2 linked regions of the Homo sapiens genome follow. The protein of the gene in region 1 purifies or fractionates together with the protein of each later gene. This does not show direct contact. Each region holds a gene or a part of one and is shown in the gene's direction. Other genes may lie near its edges.

Region 1 (11,024 bases):
CACCACTGCATTCCAGCGTGGATGACAGAGAGAGACCTTCTCTCAAAAGAAAAAAAAAATGCTGGGTGGGTGACTCACGCCTGTAATCTCAGCACTTTGGGAGACCGTGGTGGGCAGATAGTTAGGGTCAGGAGTTTGAGACTAGCCTGGCCAACATGGTGAAACCCTGTCTCTACTAAAAATACAAAAATTAGCCAGGCATGGTGGCGGGCGCCTGTAATCCCAGCTACTCAGGAGGTTGAAGCAGGAGAATCACTTGAACCTGGGAGGCAGAAGTTGCAGTGAGCCGAGATCGCACCACTGCATTCCAGCCTGGGTGACAGAGGGAGACTCCATCTCAAAAAAGAAAAAAAAAAAAAAAGCCAGGCTTGGTGGCACCTGCCTGTAGTCCTAGCTATTCTGATTACTGAAGTGGGAGGACTACTTTAGCCCAGGAGCTTGAGGCTGCAGTGATCTATGATTGCGCCGCGCCGCTGCATTCTAGTCTGGGCGATGGAGCAAGACACTGTTTCAAAAAATCCAAACAAAAAAACCCCAATATTTCCTTCAAATTTTTCCATGTCTGTACATTTGATCTAACTTGTTCTTTTTTTTTTTTTTTGAGACAGTCTCACTCTGTCACCCAAGTTGGAGTGCAGTGGCGTAATCTCCGCTCGTAGCAACCTCCGCCTCCTGGGTTCAAGCAATTCTCCTGCCTCAGCCTCCCAAGTAGCTGGGATTACAGGCGCCCACCACCACGCCCAGCTAATTTTTATATTTTTAGTAGCGATGGGGTTTCACCACGTTGGCCAGGCTGGTCTCGAACTCTTCTTGACCTTAAGTGATCCGCCCGCCTCAGCCTCCCAGTGCCGGGATTCCAAGCGTGAGCCACCACACCTGTCCTAACTCATTCTTTTTGATTGCTGCATATTATTTCATTAAATTGATGTCACGGACTGAATTGTGTCCTTCAAAATTCATATACTGAAGCCCTAACCCTCAACTGTGACTGCATTTGGAAATAGGGCCTTTAGAGAGGTAGTTAAGGTTACATGTGGACATAAGGGCAGGCCCCCAATCAGATAGGACTGTGTCTTTATAAGTAGGGGAAGGGTCACCAGAGACCCTTCTCTTTGCACACACAGAAAAACAGCCATGTTAAAGACAGAGTTAAAGGTGGCTGTCTTGCTCTGTCACCCAGGCCGGAGTGCAATGGCAGGATCACAGTTTACTGCAGCCTCGACCTCCTGGGCTCAGGCAATTTTCCTACCTCAGCTTCCTGAGTAGCTGAGACTACAGGTATGTACCACAATGCCTGGATAAATTTTTTCAATTTTTTGTATAGATGGGGTCTTACCATTGTTGCTCAGACTGGTCTCGAACTCCTGGGCTCAAGCAATCTGCAGGACTCAGCCTCCCAAAGGCTGGGATTACAGGCATGAACTACTGCTCTGGGCAAAAATTTTCTTCCTTTCCTTTTTTTTTTTTTTTGAGACGTAGTCTCACTCTGTCACCCAGGCTGGAGTGCAGTGTTGCGATATCAGCTTACTGCAACCTCTGCCTCCCAGGTTCCAGTGATTCTCCTGCCTCAGCTTCTCGAGTAGCTGGGATCACGAGCGTGAGCCACCACGCCCGGCTTATTTTCGTATTTTTAGTAGAGTTCGGGTTTCCCCATGTTGGCCAGGCTGGTCTCAAACTCCTGACCTCAGGTGATCCACCCACCTCGGCCTCCCAAAGTGCTGAGATTACAGGTGTGAGCTACTGCGCCTGGCCTTTTCTTTTTTTTTTTTTTATGAGACAGGGTCTCACTCTGTCGCCCATTCTGGAGTGCGGTGGTGTGATCTCAGCTCACTGCAACCTTCATCTTCCCAATTCAATTGATCCTCCCAACTTTTTTTTTTTTCTTTTTTTGAGACGGAGTCTCGCTCCGTTGCCCAGGTTAGAGTGCAATGGCGTGATCTCGGCTCACTGCAAACTCTACCTCGCAGGTTCAAGCGATTCTCCTGCCTCAGCCTCCTGAACAGCTGGGATTACAGGCATGTGCCACCACGCCCGGCTAATTTTTGTATTTTAGTAGAGACAGGGTTTCACCATGTTGGTCAGGCTGGTCTCGAACTCCTGATCTTGTGATTCGCCTGCCTTGGCTTCCCAAAGTGCTGGGATTACAGGCATGAGCCACCACGTCTGGCCGATCCTCCCATGTTATCCTCCTGAGCAGCTGGGACTACAGGCGCATGTCACCAAACCCAGCTACTTTTAGTATTTTTGTAGAGAGGAGTCTCGCCTTGTTGCCCAGGCTGATCTCAAATTCCTGGGCTCAACTGACCTGCCCATCTCAGCCTCCTGAAGGGCTGGGATTTCAGGCTTGAGCCACTGTGCCTGTGGGAGATGTCTATTCAAGTATTTTGCCCCCTACTGGCCTACAGGAGCCTCTTTTGGAGTGCATCCACTTGGTCTTGAATTTTTGTTTTTTTGTTTGTTTGTTTGTTTGTTTTGAGATGGAGTTTCGCACTTGTTGCCCAGGCTGAGTGCAATGGCATGATCTTGGCTCACTGCAACCTCCGCCTCTTGGGTTCAAGTGATTCTCCTGCCTCAGCCTCCCGAGTAACTGGGATTACAGGCATGTGCCACCATGCCCGATTAATTGTGTATTTTTAGTAGAGATGGGGTTTCTCCATGTTGGTCAGGCTGGTCTTGAACTCCTGACCTCAGGTGACCCGCCTGCCTGGGCCTCCAAAGTGCTGGGATTACAGGCATGAGCCACCACACCTGGCCTTAGGTCTTGATTTATTTGTGGCTGGGCATAGTGGGTCACACCTGTAATCTCAGGAGTTTGGGAGGCTGAAGTGGGAGGATCGCTTGAGGCCAGGAGTTTGAGGTCAACCTAGGGTATCATAGTGAGACCCTTTCTCTACAAAAAATAAAAAATTATCTGGGCGTGGTGGCATGTGCCTGTAGTCCCAGCTACTCAGGAAACTGAGGAGGGAGGATTAATTGAGCCTGGGAGGTTAAGGCTGCAATAAGCCATGATGGTGCCACTGCACTCCAGCCTGGGTGACAGAGTGAGACCCTGTCTCAAAAAAAAAACAACAAAAAAAAGACATTTGCATGCTATTCTCATCCTCTCTACCAGACTATAACTTTCTTTGGAGCAGGGACCACGACTTTATCACTTAACTTTCCCAACAACATTGCAAACATAATCTGAGTGAAGCTGAATCCATCATCTTTTCCAACTCTTGTGTCCCTTAATTATGTTAATAGTACATAATCCTTTCAGTCACTATGGTACAGATCTCAAAGTCATCTCTCCACACACTTGTGGCCTGGGCTCAGTCTGCTGCTCAACAGTCACCCCCCCTTTTTTTTCTTTCTTGCTTTTCTCACTGTTGAGTTAAATCTTTCATTCTCTCTCGGGATCTAATTAGCATGCTAGTTTCTATTTTCCCAGCTGATTCAACCCTTTCACTTCCAGAGGAAGCTTTCTAAATTACAGTATTGGCCCAGCGTGGTGGCTCACGCCTGTAATCCCAACACTTTGGGAGGCCAAAGTGTGTGGACCACTTGAGGCCAAGAGTTCGAGGCCAGCCTGGCCAACATGGTGAAACCATCCCTAGTAAAAATACAAAAATGAGCTGGGCATGGTAGTGCACACCTGTAATTCCAGCTACTTGGGAGGCTGAGGCAGGAGAATCGCTTGAACGTGGGAGGTAGAGGTTGCAGTGAGCCGCAACCACCCCACTGCACTCCAGCCTGGGTGACTGAGTAGAGACTCTGTCTCAACAACAACAAAAAAGTGCAGTATTTTACTCTCCTAATAATTTTTTAAATGTCTTACCAAAAAAAGTAAAAATTCCTTAGTATGGCACTCCCCAACAGTTTTTCAGTTCTATTTCCTGTAAAGCTTGCACACACATCCAACCCTGTGGTCACACTGAACTACTGAATATTCCTAGGATTTGTCCCTTGTTCCACTCGTATGTCTTTGTTCACGTTCCTTTCATTTTGCCATTCAGGAGTAACCACTCCTTTCTCTGAACTCTTGGAGTACCTAATACCTCCTTTCCAGCATTTACCACTTTCCATTTCCTTCACACAATGTTGTCATCTTCTCTACTAGGCTCTAAGTCCCTTGAGGCAGGGCCTTTGTAGCCTCCACACCAGCTTAGCAACTGATACACAGAGCACTCAGATGTCCGTGCAGGGATCTCTCTATTCTCCACACAACACAGCACCATGCCCTGTTCAGATGCACTAATTATTTGAATGAATAAATGATGTTCCACCCCCACACCCCGGTCTTCTAGCCAATGTAGAGAGAAAGAAAAGAGATACATGTTGAACTGTTTGCACACAAAAGTGACGGGATATGGCACTAATTCTTCATACAGCCTCAAAGGTCACATCTTTTTTTTTTTTTTTTTTTAAGTTTCATTCTTGTCGCCCAGGCTGGAGTTCAATGACACGATCTCGGCTTACTGCAACATCCGCCTCCCGGGTTCAAGTGATTCTCCTGCCTCAGCCTCCCGAAGTAGCTAGGATTATATGCGCCCGCCACCACGCCCAGCTAATTTTTTTGCATTTTTAGTTGAGACGGGGTTTCACCATGTTGGCCAGGCTGGTTTTGAACTCCTGACCGCAGGTGATCCACCCGCCTTGGCCTCCCAAAGTGCTGGGATTACAGGCGTGAGCCACCACGCCCGGCCTAAAGGCCACATCTTAAAACCATACTCTGTAAAATCCTGACCCAGCTTCAGAGCTACGCCACTGCGTTGTTTCCTTTTGAAGCTGAATTCCACTGAACCTATACTTGAACCTTATCTAGAGGACTACAGCGTGTAATTGGGACAATCCCCTTTCTCATTCCTAAGAGGTGATGTGGCCGGGCGGACCTCCAGATTTCCAGCAACTATGACTGGCACTCTCCCCGCGACCAGCAAGTGCCACCTTGTCCTTTGCCTAACGTTGTACAGTTTACGAAATCAACGAACCAACACGTTGATTTCATCTTCCCTGCAAACTGGGGAGACAAGACAAAAATGCTCACCTCCCTAAAAAAACAGATTAGAGGGGAGATGGGGAAGAGAAGAGGCGTGGCTACGAGCTGTGGCGGGGAAGGCGGGTGGAATCCCGGAGCCCGAGCTGGAAACCGTTCCCCGCTCAGCCATGACCCGGGCTGTTTATTCGCATCAGGAGGCGCGGGTGGCTCGCAGAGGGCGAGAAGACCCTTCCCGCTTTCACACTGCAGGCAGCTAAGTCGCCGAGAAAGGCAGCAACTTGACGCCCGACCCCGCCACCCAAACCCGCTCGCTCTGCGACCCCAGAGCAGCCGGCGCCAACCCGTCCCCTTCGCGACTCCGCCGGAAGTCCCGCCTGCACCGCCGCCGCGCCCCATTGGGCCGGGTGCTGGGGCATCCCGGGCGCTGGGTGCCCCGAGCGGCTACGACGAGTCCCAGGTGGGGCCGGGCTCCAGGCCCGCGGGGGAGCGGAGCCGTGCGCCGCAGGCGGGCTCCGTGACGCCGGGTGGGGAACGCCGGGCCGGTGGCGGGACTTCCGCCACGGGACTCGGAAGGGGCCGCGCCGCCGCTGCTGGGAGTTGTAGTCCGGCCGTGGTTGGGGGAGCCGCGGCTCATGCGCGGTGCACAGAGGCTTGTTTCACATCTGTAACAACAGGTGAATTGGGCTTTTTATTCTCCCCTTTCGTGCCCTCTTGAGGAGCCTGCCGCGGCCGGGGGTGGTCGTCGTGAGGAGGGGGCCCGGTCCGACCGCCAGCCTGGCGGAGAGTGGGGCGGAGACGCCGGCGGGCCCGAGGAGCAGGCCGGGCATCCTAGGCCTGCCCGGGAAGCCGGCCCGGCCGATCCGTGGGCAGCCAGGCCTCGGCCTGCCGTTGCCATGGAGCCCGGGCGGGGGCGGGGGCCAGACCGGTCCGCCGGGGCGGGCCTCGCAGCCAGGGGCTCCGCGGAGGCCGTGGGAGAGGCCGCTTCATTGGCGCAACGACGCCTTCGCCTCGGGATGCGCCGTTTCCCCAGGCAGGGCCTGGAGGAAGCCTCCTGAGTGCCCCGAGACCTTTGTCTACTTCTCCTCCTTCCCGGTGCTGCCCGGACCGTTCGTCCAGAGGGAGGCCCGGTGCCTTCTGGCCCCCCTAGTTTGCCCCCTTTTGCACCGACCTTGTCACTGGGGGAGGCCAAGGGGTGAGGTATTCTTTGTTTGCTGGTGGTAACTTGTCCCATTTAGCAGGGGAAGACCAAATGCATGTTGGGTCCTTTGTTTGCAGTGAACTGGAGTCCCAGGGGTCCTCAGAAACCCTAAGCCAGGGATATGGCATATCTAGTCGTTGTGTAGCAACATTGGTCACTTGAATTATGATTTTTCAAGGCAGAGGCTGTTTCACTTTACAACCCCACTCCATGAGGGTTTGCCATACACTAGCAGGTAGACTGCAGAAGGCCACTTACAGGCTTTCAACCTGGTTTTAGTTGCAGCTTATGGGCCAGAGTGAAATGAGACGTTGTCTGGTGATTTCCCTTGAAGTTTCTTGCAAGGTGGTAACCCCACTGTCATTGTGGGTTTTAACTACATCTTGTAATTTACACTTAAATCTTAGAGATTTAAGGCGATGTGCAGAAACTACATCCTTTGCTGCGTTTTCTACCGGTGTTGGCTCTTTATCCCTAAAAGATAGTTGCTCTTCAAGTGTTTTAATTTATGTAGCTGTGATACAAAGTTTTATTAGGGCCGGGAGCGGTGTCTCACGCCTGTAATCCCAGCACTTTGGGAGGCCGAGGCGGGTGGATCACCTGAGGTCAGAAGTTTGAGACCAGCCTGGCCAACATGGCTAGACCTCGTTTCTACTAAAAATACAAAAATTAGCCGGGCATGGTGGCGTGCGCCTGTAACCCTAGCTACTTGGGAGGCTGAGGCAAGAGAATTGCTTGAACCCAGGAGGCCGAGGTTGCAGTGAGCCAAGATCGCGCCATTTCACCCCAGCCTGGGCAACAAGAGCGAAACTCCTTCTCAAAACAAAACAAAACAAAAACCACACACAAGTTTTATTAGCTGTTGGACCTTTCTTGCCCCTTTCAGCCTTTGAAGATAACAGTATAATATGTCTCAAGGAATGAACCGTAGTACATTTAGGCAACAGCATAATATCCTGGAAATAAGAAAATTAGCCTAGTATAAGCATGGAGGGTTTTGGAGTCAGCATGCTTCAATGCTGATTTCCATCTGCCCTGAGGCAGCTATGGGATCTTGGGCAGGTTGTGTAACCTGTGCTTCAGTTTTCTTCTCTGGAAAGATAATTCCTACCTCACTGGATAGTTGCCTGGATTAAATGGGGTAAAGTCTATGGAAGTATGTTGTGAACTGTAAAAATGGTATTCAACTTTGAGTTATTGTTATTTTCCCAATCTTGAAGAGTATTATAGCTTCTTTATGTTAGATTATCATAATTATTATGGGATTAGAACTCAAAGTGGAAGTAGGTTTTGCTCTGGGCTTCCAGAAAATGCTTTTCAGGCTTACAAGGCTTTCTTTACCTTGACATCTTCTTAGATGATGTCAGAAGACTTCAGCACTTCTACAGGTGCTGGTGTAGGACAGCTTACAATTTAATGGGCCTAGAATGGGTCATGGTAAGTCCTGATTTGTAAGGCCATTTTGTCCAGTATGTGCCCTTCATGCCACTAACAAAATTTGTCCTTGTTAGAGCTAGTAAATGATGGTTGGAGCAACTTTCTTTCCCTATGGGGCCTCCACTGTATTGACTCAGCGTTGTACTTCTCAGGAGGAGGCCCAGCCTCGTGATGAGGAATAGCAAGGAGAGAATTCAGCTCCAGTTCAAAAGCCTACAAAATCTGAGACTGTCATTGCTTTTATAAGGTAAGTTGATTTAGCCGTGCACAGAGCAGTGGTGGATCTGATGCTCAGCTGTACTGTAAAACAAGAGGTATGTGTTAAACCTATTTCTGACCATTTTGGAAGAAGGATATCATTTATTTTATTTTGTTTTATTTTTGAGACAGAGTCTCGCTTTGTCCCCCAGGCTGGAGTGCAGTGGCGCGATCTTGGCTTGCTGCAACCTCTGCCTCCCAGGTTCAAGCAATTCTCCTGTCTCAGCCTCCCAAGTAGCTGAGATTACAGGCGCCTGCCACCATGCCCAGCTGATTGTTTTGTATTTTTAGTAGAGACTGGGTTTCACCATGTTGGCCAGGCTGGTCTCAAACCCCTGACGTCAGGTGATCAGCCTGCCTCAGCCTCCCAAAGTGCTGGGATTACAGGCATGAGCCACTGTGCCCAGCCAGAAGGGTATCATTTTTAGTCATTGTGGAGTCTCTGTCCTGGAACCATCCCCAAGTGACTCTACCTGGAGTTAAATTGTATTTCATTATGCAGGAAATCTTGATATAATAGCATTTTACTTATCTGTAAATTACTTAAGAGACACATTGAGCTACAAGGTTTTTTGTTTTTGAGACAGTCTTGCCCTGTCGCCCAGGCTGGAGTGCAGTGGTGCAATCTTGGCTCACTGCAACCTCCACCTCCTTAGTTCAAGCAATTCCCCTGCCTCAGCCTCATGCCACCAAGCCCGGCTAATTTTTTTGTATTTTTTTTTTTTTTTTTAGATGGGAGTCTCACTCTGTTGCCCAGGTTGGAGTGCAGTGGTGGGATCTTGGCTCACTGCAACCTCTGCCTCCTGGGTTCAAGCGATTCTCCTGCCTCAGCCTCCTGAGTAGCTGGGATTACAGGTGCGCACCACCACGCCTGGCTTATTTTTGTATTTTTAGTAGAGATGGGGTTTCACCATTTTGGTCAGGCTAACCTCAAACTCCTGACCTTGTGATCTGCCTGCCTCTGCCTCCGAAAGTGCTGGGATTACAGGTGTGAGCCACCGTGCCTGGCCAATTTTTTTCTTTTTTTTTTCTGAGATGGAGTCTCACTCTGTCACCCAGGCTGGAGTACAGTGGTGCAATCTTGGCTCACTGCAACCTCCGCCTCCCGGGTTCAAGCGATTCTTCTGTCTCAGCCTCCTGAGTAGCTGGGACTACAGGCGTGCACCACCACGCCTGGCTAATTTTTTGTATTTTTAGTGAAGATGGGGTTTTACCATGTTGGCCGTGCTGGTCTCGAACTCCTGACTTTGTGATCCACCTGCTTCGGCCTCCCAAAGTGCTGGGATTACAGGAGTGAGCCACTGCGCTCAGGCGTGCCTGGCCAATTTTTTTTGTATTTTTAGTAGAGACAGGATTTCACCATCTTGGCCAGAATGGGCTCGAACTCCTGACCTCAGGCAATCTGCCTGCCTCAGCCTCCCAAAGTGATGGGATTACAGGCGTGAGCCACCAAGCCTGGCCCACTACAAAGATTTTTAAACATTACTGCATTATGGCCGGTCGTGGTGGCTGATGCCTGTAATCCCAGCACTTTGGGAGGCTGAGGCGGGCGGATCACAAGGTCAGGAGTTCGAGTCCAGCCTGGCCAACATGGTGAAACACTGTCTCTACCAAAAATACAAAAATTAGCCAGGCGTGGTGGCGGGTGCCTGTAATCCCAGCTACTAGGGAGACTGAGACAGGAGAATCATTTGAATCCGGGAGGTGGAGGTTGTAGTGAGCAGAGATCATGCCATTGCACTCCAGCCTGGGCAACAAGAGCAACACTCTGTCTCAAAACAAAACACCATTACTGACTGCATTACAAGGAAGACCGCTTTCTTTTGGATCTCTATGAAATGTTCTAGAGCTCTGTAAATTCTGTCTCTAAAAGATCCTGTCTTGATTCTCATAGTATCGTTTTTTTAGATTAGTACAGGAAAAAGAATGGTACATGAGCCTAAATTGACATATTGGGCTAGAGGTTTAGGGACTTTTAAAAAGCAAAACTGGCCGGGCACGGTGGCTCATGCCTGTAATCCCAGCACTTTGGGAGGCCGAGGCAGGCAGATCATGAGGCCAAGAGATCGAGACCATCCTGGCCAACATGATGAAAGCCCATCTCTACTAAAAATCCAAAAAAATTTAGCCGTGCATGGTGGCGTGTGCCTGTAGTCCCAGCTACTTGGAAGGCTGAGACAGGAGAATAGCTTGAACCCGGGAGGTGGAGGTTGCAGTAAGCTGATATTACGCCATTGCCCTCCAACCTGGTGACAGAGCGAGACTCTGTCTCAAAAAAAAAAAAAAAAAAAAAAAAGCAAAATCAAGAGTCTATTTGCAAGCAAATTAACTTACAAATTTTTTTTTTAGAGGCAGGGTCTCACTGTGTTGCCTAGGCTGGTCTTGAACTCCTGGCCTCAAGCGATCCTTCACCTGGGCGTCCCAAAGTGCTGGGACTACAGGCATGAGCCACCCCACCTAGCCATTAAATTTTGCTTTTTTTTTTTAAATTTTTTTGAGACAGAGTTTCGCTCTTGTTGCCCAGCCTGCAGTGCAGTGGCGCAATCTCATCTCACTGGAACGTCCACCTCCTGGGTTCAAGTGATTCTCCTGCCTCAGCCTCCCACGTAGTTGGGATTACAGGCATGCACCACCACGTCCGGCTAATTTTGTATTTTTAGTAGAGACGGGGTTTCTGCATGTTGGTCAGGCTGGTCTCAAACTCCCGACCTCAGGTGATCTGCTTGCCTCGGCCTCCCAAAATGCTGGGATTACAGGCATGAGCCACTGCACCCGCCTTACTTTTTGTTTTTTTTTTTTAAGAGAGACAGGGTCTTGCTTTGTCACCCAGACTGGAGTGCAGTGGCGTGATCACAGCTCACTGTAAACCTCAAAATCCTGGGCGAAGTGATCCTCCTGCCTCAGCCTCCTGAGTAGCTAAGACTGCAAGCATGTACCACCACACCTGGCTAATTCTGAAAATTTTTTTTAGAGATGCGGTCTCACTATGTTGCCCAGGCTGGTCTTGAACTCCTGGTCTCAAGTGCTCCTCTCATCTCAGCCTCCCAAAGCGCTGGGATTACAGGTGTGAACCACTGTGCCTAGCCAGTTTACCATTTCGTAGCAATAGAGTATTGTTTCTTTTTTTTTTTTCTTAAATTTATTTTTTATTTT
Region 2 (11,151 bases), on another chromosome or scaffold:
CTTGTCTGGAGTTAACTTAGAGTTGTAGAGCGGCCTTAGCTCATTGAAAAAAACATCTTGGGGTACTAGAGAGAAAAGGCAGTGGGAAGCTAAATCATCCTCAGCAGCCAAAATCGACGGCAAACAATGTATGGTATTTCTTATAGGAGGGCCTCTAGTGCTTACTCAGGAAGTCCTTATTAATTTACCTGTAATTCTAATTAGTTTAGTTACCTGGCTTCCCAGGCTGTAACTAATGGCATTATATTAGAAAAAAGCCTGGATAGACGTCCGAACTTAGCCAGTGAACACTGACAGCCTGATGAAGAAATTTAAAACTACCTTCATACTTGAAAAAAAAAAAAATTCACTATATAGCAGTCAAGGGTGCTTTGAGGAAGGGGCATATATTTCTCCACTAAATCCTAGTAATTTATGTTCATAAGAATTCTAGAAATGATAATCGATGGTCAACACAATGGCCCCAAAATGTCAAGTGAAGATTCAATTGTAGCATTGGTTTAAGAGGGTGCAGATGCATAGATACTTTTTAGGAAAAATCCCTCCAAAGTAAAAAGGTTTGGTGCTTAAAGGGTTAAATTTCAGTTACTAATATTAGAAAGTTTATTTATTAGAAATACCCCATACTCTGATTTTGCTGGATAAATGAGATGATTTCATATTTGATAGAGATTTGAATGTATTTGTGTCAAATTTTGTCTTCTAAATGTATGATCCTAAGGGACACATCTCATCATAGTACAGGAAGGATGTAACTTAGATATAAAATAATAGCTTCAGAGTATTTTATAAATTATGTGGATTGTTGTGGGAACCTGAGAAGTTTCTTGATGTGTTTCTCCCCAGAATGTCTTGTTCCCGTGTACGTTGTGTCTTATAGAAAAGTCATAATGTGTTCGTAGAAGCTGTTGCTATATTTTCGTATCACTGTGATTGTATTGCATATCTTTATTATAACAGCATTACAAGTATGTTTGTGTGATAACTTATAGGCACTTTTTGGTTTAGTAGGAAATTGTTTTCCCCCCAGATAGGTAATGCATATGCATTGTACAGAAAGAAAAAAGCAGTTCAGCAACATATAGCAGAAAAGGAAAGATCTTTGAAGATCCTTCACCTTCAAGATAACCACTGGTTCGTGGTTGTGTAGTTTATTTTCTCTGCATATATTTAGACAGTTTTTTTAAACTGAAAAGTTAAGTTTTGTTGTGTATTTTATTTTGAAATATGCATTTTTTTTTTTTGAGACAGTCTCGCACTGTCACCCAGGCTGGAGTGCAGTAGCGCAATCTCGGCTCACTGCAACCTCCGCCTCCTGGGTTGAAGCGATTCTCCTGCCCCAGCCTCCGGAGTAGCTGAGACTATAGGCCCGCGCCACCACGCCCGGCTAATTTTTGTATTTTTAGTAGAGACGGGGTTTCACAGTGTTGGCCAGGATGGTCTAGATCTCTTGACCTCGTGATCCGCCCGCCTCGGCCTCTCAAAGTGCTGGGATTACAGGCGTGAGCCACTGCATCCAGCAGCCTGAATTTTTCCCTTTCTTACTGTCCTTGTCATATAGTATTGTATAAACTTATTAACCCTGTCATATATTTTAAGTTAGGTGTCACAATAATCTAGAGTGTGCTGTCCAGGGCAGTAGCCATGTGTGGCTATTTAAATGTAAATTAATTAAAATTACACAAAATTAAAAATTCACCTCCTCGGTGTTAGCACATTTCAAGTGCTCAGTAGCTACATGTGGATAGGGGCTATTATATTAGCACAGATCTAGCATATTCCTAACATCAGGAAGTTCTCTGTACAGCACTGATCTAGAGGACACCGCTTTTTAGTATGTGATGCTAGTTTTTTTGGATAACCAGCTACTCACTGACTCTCTTTCAGGATCTGAATTTGGTCACTGTATCTTATCCGTTCTAGGGGTTTTGTTTTTGTTTTTGCTTTTTTTGTTTTTGAGATGGAGTTTCGTTCTTGTCACCCAGGCTGGAGTGCAACAGTGTGATCTCGGCTCACTGCAACCTCCTCCTCCCAGGTTCAAGCAATTCTGCCTCAGCCTCTGGAGTAGCTGGGATTACAAGTGCCTGCCACCATGCCCAGCTAATTTTTTTTTTTTTGAGACTGAGTCTTGCTCTGTCACTCAGGCTAGGGCGCAGTGTTACAATCTTGGCTCACTGCAGCCTCTGCCTCTTGGGTTCAAGTGATTCTCCTGCCTCAGCCCCCTGAGTAGCTGGGATTACAGGTGCATGCCACCATGCCCAGCTAATTTTTGTATTTTTAGTAAAGACAGGGTTTCACCATGTTGGCCAGGCTGGTCTTGAACTCCTGACCTAGTGATCCGCCCACCTTGGCCTCCCAAAGTGCTGGGATTGTAGGCGTGAGCCACCACACCGAGCCGCTAATTTTTGTATTTTTAGTAGAGACAGGATTTCACCATGTTAGCAAGGCTGGTCTCGAACAGGTGATCTGCCTGCCTCGGCCTCTCAAAGTGCTGGGATTATAGGCGTGAGCCACCGCGCCCGACCCAGACCCTCATCTCCAATGCTACTGTCAAAATTAAAGCCATCGTAGTCTCTTTCCTGGACGCTGGAACAGCCCTCTAACTGGTTTCTTGCCTCCAGTCTTGCTTCTCTTCCACCTGCCATACTGGAACCAAGTCCTTCAGTGACTTCTTGTTACCCTTACTATCTGATCCAGGACTTTTAAAGTGGTTTATGAGGCCCTTGTTGGCTCCACCCTTGCCTTGCTCTGAGACTTTATCACTGCGTACCCCCTCCTCATACTCCATCCCAGCCGCACTGAACCTTTTTTCAGTTCTTTAATTTTGAACCTGTGTCTAGGCCTTTTTGCATCTGCTGATTTCTTGTGCCTGATTCCCCCTCCCATCCCATGTCCACTTTTCTGGCTAAGTCTTACTTTTCCTTTGGGAACTTAAGTTAGGTACCAAAGTAGGGTACCCCTGCTCCATGTTACTGCAGGATCCTATTATATATGTCTTTGAAAAATAGTGTGTAAAGTGCATTGTTGAAATTCCTTGTTTCGGAAGTTCCTTTGCTGGATTTTGACCCCGCGAATTCAGGGCCCCTGTATCTGCATTATTCACCACTGTATCCTAATTTCTTAGAATTTGCCTTGTACATTGAAAGTGCTCAGTGGACACTTGTTGAACAAAAGCAGTGAAAAGACTGATTAATCAGAAATGTTGTTAATTGAAATGGCTAGTGAGATCACAAATCTCAAAATTTTTCTTTTCTTTTTTTCTGGAGTCAGTGTCTTGCTCTGTTGCCCAGGGTGGAGTGCAGTGGCGTGATCTCGGCTCACTGCAACCTCCGCCTTCTGGGTTCAAGCCATTCTCATGCCTCAGCCTCTCGAGTAGCTGGGATTAAAAGTGTGCACCACCATGCCTGGCTAATTTTTCTATTTTTAATAGAGACAGGGTTTTGCCATGTTGGCCAGGCTGGTCTTGAACTCCTGGCCTCAAGTGATCTGCCCCCACTTGGCCTCCCAGAGTGCTGAGATCTCAGGTGTGAGCTGCTGCGCCCAGCCTCTTTAGCTGTTTTCCCTTCAACTATTGGTTAGACCAAGATCATTATTCTCGTTATATTTAAGCTTCTTTGGTTGTATCTAACAGAACTAGACTAGCTCATGCAAAAAAGAGCAGGGTTGGGTGAAGAGGGGCAGAGCAGACTATTTTATCACTAGCATTTTAGAGAATTTAAAGCAATAATAAAATGAACTAAAAGTTAGTTGGTCTGCTTTTTATTATCACCATGAATCTAAACAGACAATCTGTGCCCTTATTGTCTGTACCCAGCTTGGACCTCTTCTACCACTCTGTCCTTGGTAGGCCACTGAAAAAAGTTAATTTATATTAAGGCTATAAAACCCAAGAACAGGGGAAGTGGTTGGGTATTCGAAGAGACTGAGTGGAATCAGGAACTGGAAAGCTAGCAGGAATCCAAGCAACTCAGTATTTCTTCTCTTGGGATACATTAATCTCTGCACACTTTCTCTTTCTCTACTCCATGTCTCCCAAATTTACTTGTTCTCGGTTCCAACCCACGCTAGCTAGCATCTTTATTTTCAGGCATAGAAAATCTGATTGGCACAACATGGAGTCAGGAATCCATTCACTCAGGGATCAGTCATCTGTGGCCATGGCACAGAGTTAGGTAGGACAATCGTGACTGTTATCCACACCTCAACATTGGGGGCGTTCTCAAAGAAGAAGAATAGCTCCGGCAGCCATGGCAGATGGCATACGTAGGAGTTTTTAAGTTATAATAACTTACACATGGTTTTAAAAAAAATCAACATGATGGTATGAACTGAGTGAAAGTACGTGCTCCCTCCATTGAAGTAACCACTTTTTTTTTTTTTTTTTTTTTTTTTTTTTGAGATGGAGTCTCGCTCTGTCGCCCAGGCTGGAGGGCAGTGGTGCGATTTCGGCTCACTGCAACCTCTCCCTCCCAGGTTCAAGCGATTCTCATGCCTCAGCCTCTTGAGTAGCTGGGACTACAGGCGACCACCACCACACCTGGCTAATTTTTGCATTTTTAGTAGAGTCGGGGCTTCACCGTGTTGGCCAGGATGGTCTCGACCTCCTCTGCCCTCGTGATCCACCACCCTCGGCCTCCCAAAGTGCTGGGATTAGAGGCATGAGCCACCGTGCCCTGCCTGAAGTAACCGCTTTTAACTGTTTTTGCTTTTAGAGGTTTTTTTCTTTGAGACAGAGTCTCGCTCTGTCACCCAGGCTAGAGTGCAGTGGCACGATCTCTGCTCACTGCAACCTCTACCTCCCAGGTTCAAGCAGTTCTACTGCCTCAGCCTCCCGAGTAGTTGGGACTACAGGCGCCTGCCACCACACCCAGCTAACTTTTTGTATTTTCGTAGAGATGGTGTTTCACTATGTTGCTCAGGCTGGTCCAAAAAAATTTTTTTTCTTTGAAATAAAATTCACATAACAAAATTTAACATTTTAAAATGTACAATTGAATTTTTTTTACTGTATTCATAATGATGTTGTGCAACCATCACCACCACTATCTTTTTCTCTTTTTTTTGAGACGGAGTCTCACTCTGTTGCCCAGGCTGGAGTGCAGTGGTGCAAACTTGGCTCACTGCAACCTCTGCTTACCGGGTTCAAGCGATTCTCTTGCCTCAGCCTCCCAAGTAGCTGGGATCACAAGCATGCACCACCATTCCTGGCTAATTTTTGTATTTTTAGTAGAGACGGAGTTTTACCATGTTGGTCAGGCTGCTCTTGAACTCCTGATCTCAGGTGATCCACACGCCTCGGCCTCCCAAAGTGTTGGGATTACAGGCATGAGCCACCACGCCCGGCCACCCCTATCATTTTCATCACTCCAAAAAGAAACCCCATACCTTTAGTAGTCTCTCCCATTTCTTCTGTCTTCCATCTCTGGCAACAACTATACTTCTGCCCATGGATTTACCTATTCTGGACGTTTCGTGTAGGTGGAATTATACAACATGTGGCCTTTGAGGTCTGGCTTCTTTTCATTTACCATGATATTTTCATGGTTCATCCATGTCATAGTATGCATCAGTACTGCATTCCTTTTTTTTTTTTTTTTAAGAGATAGAGCCTGGCTCTGTCGTCCAGGCTGGAATGCTGTGTGGCAAGATCATGGTTCACCGCAGCCTTGAACTTCCAGTCTCAAGTGATCCTGCAGCCTCAGCTTCCTGAGTAGCTGGGACTACAGGCATGTATTACCTGTATTACCACACCCAGCTAATTTTTAAATCATTTTTTGTAGATTTGGGGTCTCACTATGTTGCCCAGGCTACACTCAAACTCCTGGCCTCAAGTGACCCTCCCGCCTCGGCCTCCCAAAGTGCTGGGATTACAGATGTGAGCCACTGTACCCAGTCTGCATTCCTTTTTATGGCTGAAAATAACATTCCATTGTATGTCTATACTGCATTTTGTTTATCCATATATTTGCTGATGGACACTTAGGTTATTTCCTGGCTGTTATAAATACTGCTACTATAAACATTCATGTACAAGTTTTTGTGTGAATGTAAGCTTTTTGGTTCTTTCCCAGATATACCTAGGGATGGAATTGCAAGGTCATATGATAATTTTATATTTAACTTTTTGAGGAATTGCCAAACTTTTCCACAGTGGCTGCACCATTTTACTTCCCAGGTTCAAGCAATTCTCCTGCCTCAGCCTCCCAAGTAGCTGGGATTACAGGTACCACCAGCAAGCCCAGCTAACTTTTGTATTTTTAGTAGAGATGAGGTTTCACCATGTTGGCCAGGCTGGTCTCAAACTACTGATCTCAGGTAATCTGCCTGCCTTGGCCTCCCTAAGTGCTGGGATTACGGGCATAAGCCACTACGCCTGGCCTAAAATGTTTTTAAGAAAGGTTGTGTGAGAAGAGAACAAGAGGCACATTATATAATGTTAAAACAGTCAGTTCACCAAGAAGACCTAACTATATATGCACCAAGCAACAGAGCTTCAAAATGTATGATGCAAAAACCAGCAGAAATAAAAGAAGAAATAGGCAAATCTGCAATTGTAGTTAGATATTTTACTACTCCTCTCTCAGTACTTGACAGAATAGTGGGTAGAAAATCAAAAAGAATACTGAACAACACAAAACTACACAACACTGTCAACCAAGTAGATCTAATTGACATTTGTTTACCTAATGACAGCAGAATACACATTCTTTTCAAGTGCACATGTAAATTCACCAAGATAAACCACATTCTGGGTCATAAACCAAATAGTAAACTTTATATATAAGAAGAACACTTCTAAACAATCCATGGATTAAAAACTCTCAAAGGAAAGCTTTGAATATTGTGAACTAAACCAAAATGAAAACTCAACATACCAAAATTTGTGGGATACAGCCAAAGACATGCTTAGATGCATTAGCTGCCTTAATTAGAAGAGAAGGTCTCAAGTGAATAATTTAAGCTTCCACCTATGAAACTAGAAATGAAGAGCAAAATAAACCCAAATTAAACAGAAGAAAGAAATAATAGAGAACAAAAATCCATGAAATAGAAAACAGAAAAAAAAGAAAAAATCAGTGAAACTCAAAGCTCTTTAAAAAAAAAATCAATAAAATTGTAAACCTCTAGCCATACTGGCAAAGGAAAAAAAAAAAGGAAAACAAATTACCAATAGTAGAAAAGAAAAAAAGGAAGACAAATTACCAATATTAGAAAAGAAAGAGGAGATAACCACCGTAGACTGTACAGGCATGAAAAGGATAATACAAACAGCTCTACAGATAGAAATTCATCAACTTAGATGAAATGGACCAGTTCCTCAAAAACCACTGTATTAGCTTTCTATTTCTCCTGTAATAAATTACAAATGTAGTGACTTTAAAACAAAAGGTTTTTATTTACAGTCCTGGAGACAGAAGTCTGACATGGGTCTTACTGGGATAAAATCAAATTGTTGACAGGACTTGCATTCCATTGTGGAGGCTTTAGGAGAGAATCTGTTCCTTTTCTTTTCCTGCATCTAGAGTCTGCCCACATTTCTTGGCTTGTGGCCCCCTTCCGTTTTCAAAGACAACAAGTCGAGTTGTTCTCACATCTTACTCTAACTTCCTCTTTTGCCACATCCTTCCACATTTAAGGACCGTTGTGATTACATTGAACCCACCCAGATTGTTTTTTTTTTTAAGTTCAACTGATTATTAACCTTAATTCCATCTGCTACCTTAATTCCTATGTAACATATCTTTACAAGTTCTGGGGATTAGAACATCAGTATCTTGGTTGGGTGGGAGGGGGTCATTATTCTGCTGATCACAGCCACAAACTATCCAAACTCACCCAAGTAGAATAATATTTCACCTTTTACGTCTGGCTTATCTCACTTAGCATAATGTTTTCAAGGTTTATTCCTGTGTCTTCGTTGCTTTTTTTTTTTTTTTTTTTTTTTTTTTTTTTTTTTTTTGAGTCTGAGCCTCACTCTGTCTCCCAGGCTGGAGTGCAGTGGTGCGATCTCAGCTCACTGAAACCTCCGCCTCCTGGGTTCAAGCAATTCTCCTGTCTCACCCTCCCGAGTAGCTGGGATTACAGGCGTGTGCCACCACGCCCGGCTAATTTTTGTATTTTTAGTAGAGACGGGGGTTTGCCATGTTGGCCAGGCTGGTCTTGAACTCCTGACAGGTGATCCGCCCGCCTCGGCCTCCCAAAGTGCTGGGATTACAGGCGTGAGCCACCCCGCCTGGCCCTCGCTGCATTTTAATAAAGATACAAAAGCTAATTCAAATGGAAAAAGGATATTCTTTTCATCAAAGACATGAACAATTTAACATTTACATGGAAAAATAAAATCCTCAACCTTTACCTCATATTTTATATAAAATTAACTCAAAATGGATCATACATCTGAGTATAAAACCTGAAACTATAAAACTTTTAGAAGAAAACAGATCTTTGTGACCTGGGGTTTGGCAATGAGTTCTTAAGACATGACACCGAAGGCACAGTGCGTAAAACAAAAATTTGATAAATTGGGCTTCATCAAAATTAAAAACCTTTGTTCTGTAAAAAAAAATTCTATTAGGAGCATGAAAAGACAAGCTATACACTGGGAGAATATATTTGAAAATCCGGTATCAGAAAAAGAACTTGAATCCAGAATATATAAGAAAACACAGCAGTAATTTAAAAACTCAATTTTAAAAGGGGCAAAAGATTTAAGTAGGCTTAAATAGACATTTCACCAGATAGGATACAAGGATGGCAAATATCCCCCTGAGAAGAGTTCAGCATTGTTAGCCATTAGGGAAATGCAAATTTAAGCCATGATATTGCATATTAGAACAGCTAAAATTTAAAAATACATAGTGATAGTACTAAGTACTGGCAAGGATGGGAACAGCTGGATCTCTTAGCAAAATGGTGCAGCCACTCTGGAAGACAGGTAGAATCTTAATCATACATTTACCATGTACTCAACTGTGTCATATCTAGATACTCATTCTAGAGAAATGAAAGCTCATGTTCACATGAAAACCTGCAGACACGTGTTTTATAGTTTTGTTTATAGTTGTCAAACCTGAAGACAATCTAAATGTCCTTCAGCAAGCAAATACATAAACAAATTGGTTGTTATTCAGAGGAATAATAGGAATAAAAAGAAATGAAGTATTGATATACAAATGTGTTGGGGAGTCCTATAACCACCCATATGCTTGAAGATTTACTAGGACTTATATGATTCACTGTATAGTTGTACTCCTCCTAAGATTTATTGCAGCAATATGGTAAGGATACATAGTTGGATCCTAAGGACACACATGGAGTCTGGAGGAATCCAGTGTCTTGATAATTTTTTCTTTTTGCGTGGTGGAGGAGGTGGTGTGGGGGGGGACGAAGATTCACTCTAGTCGCCCAGGCTGGAGTGCAATGGGGCAATCTTGGCCCACTGCAACCTCCACCTCCCAGGTTCAAGCGATTCTCCTGCCTCAGCCTCCCAAGTAGCTGGGATTACAGGCGCACACCATCACGCCTAGCTAATTTTTGTATTTTTAGTAGAAAAGGGGTTTCATCATATTGACCAGACTTGTCTCGAACTCCTGACCTCAGGTGATCCGCCTGCCTTGGCCTCCCAAAGTGCTGGAATTACAGGTGTGAGCCACCGCACCCAGCCAAGAGGATTTTTTCATTTTAAGTGCAGAGGCAGGAGGATCGATCACTTGAGCCCAGGAGTTCCAGACCAACCTGGACAACATAGGGAGACCTCCATCTCTACAAAAAGATTTAAAAATTAGCCAGGCGTGGTGGCCCGTGCCTGTGGTCCCAGCTACGCAGGAGACTGAGGCCAGAGGATCACTTGAGCCCAGGAAATTAAGGTTGCAGTGAGCCAGGATCACACCACTGTACTCCATCCTGGGTGACAAAGCAACACAACACCCTGCCTGAAAAAAGAAAATTGCATTTATATACATTCAAGTAACTTAGAAATAACTTGCTGCTCCCCAGTCACTGCTTGATGTAGCTTTACTATTTGTTATGTGGTATTCTCACGTCTTTTACACAATTGCAGGCAGAATAGTTGGTGTGGCAGTCGTGGCTGTGTAATAGTCTTTTCTTTAAACATCCATTTTGAATACAAGCGAAAATACCCACTTATCTTTTACCCAATTCACTGTATCTAGTAGAGCAGCGATTCTTAAACTTCAATGTGCATTATAGTCAGTCACATAGAGGGCTTTTTAAAATATGAATTGCTAGGCCCCACCCCTAAGAGTTTCTGATTCTGTGGTTCGGGGTTGGGCTGAATAATTTGCATTTCTAACAAGTACTCAGATGATGCTAATGATGCTGGTCAGGGAACCAACTTTGAGGACTAGTTTGTTAGTGGATTTAACGCCTACACATTAGTATCACCTGAGGAGTCCCCCATCCCTACTTCTTTTTCACAACTGGCCCTTGTCCAGTTAAGTAAACGTGTTTGGAAGTCCTGCTCAAACATGGTGTTAGGATTTTATGGTCCTTTTCAACAGATGCAGCTCCATAACAAGTGTAGACTTTTTATTTTTTACTCCAAATCTTCATAACACTTGTGTGATGAATATAAACAGCAGGATTGGCCAGCTGTGTGGTTTGGTGGTTTTAGTTCACATAAATCTGTATTCCGTCAATAGCTCACTTTTTGGTCTTGGCCAGTTCCCATAAGTGCCTGCTGTAGATGGCTTGTTAATTGTAAGGAGTAAATAGTAACTACACAGTAGAGTAATTGGCTGTCACTTTGGGTGATCAAAATTAACATCACCAATGAAGGGAAGATGGACATCATGTCTTTTCAGACATCTGGAAGGATAAACATCACTTATACAGTAGTTTGACAACATTGTTTAAACAGCAGTTCGGTTATACTTGATTGGAATCTGATCATAAGGGAACCAACAGATCCAGATTGAGAAGCATTCAATTTTTAAAAAAGGACCTTATTCTTCTTAAATAGCAATGTCATGAAATATAAAGTTTGCAGAACTATTCCATATGAAAGGAGATTAAAGAGATCTGATAGCTAAATGCAAAAGTGATCCTAAGCTGGGTCCTGTAACTGAACGGAAAAAAGTGCTATAGAGGGGATAGTATTGGGTCATATGATAAATAGGAATATAGATGGTA

What was found.
Region 2: the proteins of DHX30 (region 1) and MCMBP purify together in Homo sapiens (affinity purification with mass spectrometry; 2 studies listed by BioGRID and IntAct, with this or other methods). This does not show direct contact.

What each region holds. Positions count from the first base shown.
Region 1 is NC_000003.12:47,797,561-47,808,584, forward strand, and holds the start of DHX30 (ATP-dependent RNA helicase DHX30), read left to right. Parts: upstream 1-5,577; 5' UTR 5,578-5,652; intron 5,653-5,897; exon of another isoform or gene 5,898-6,170; intron 6,171-7,765; 5' UTR 7,766-7,860; intron 7,861-11,024.
Region 2 is NC_000010.11:119,860,538-119,871,688, reverse strand, and holds part of MCMBP (mini-chromosome maintenance complex-binding protein), read left to right. Parts: intron 1-11,151. UniProt on the Homo sapiens protein: Associated component of the MCM complex that acts as a regulator of DNA replication.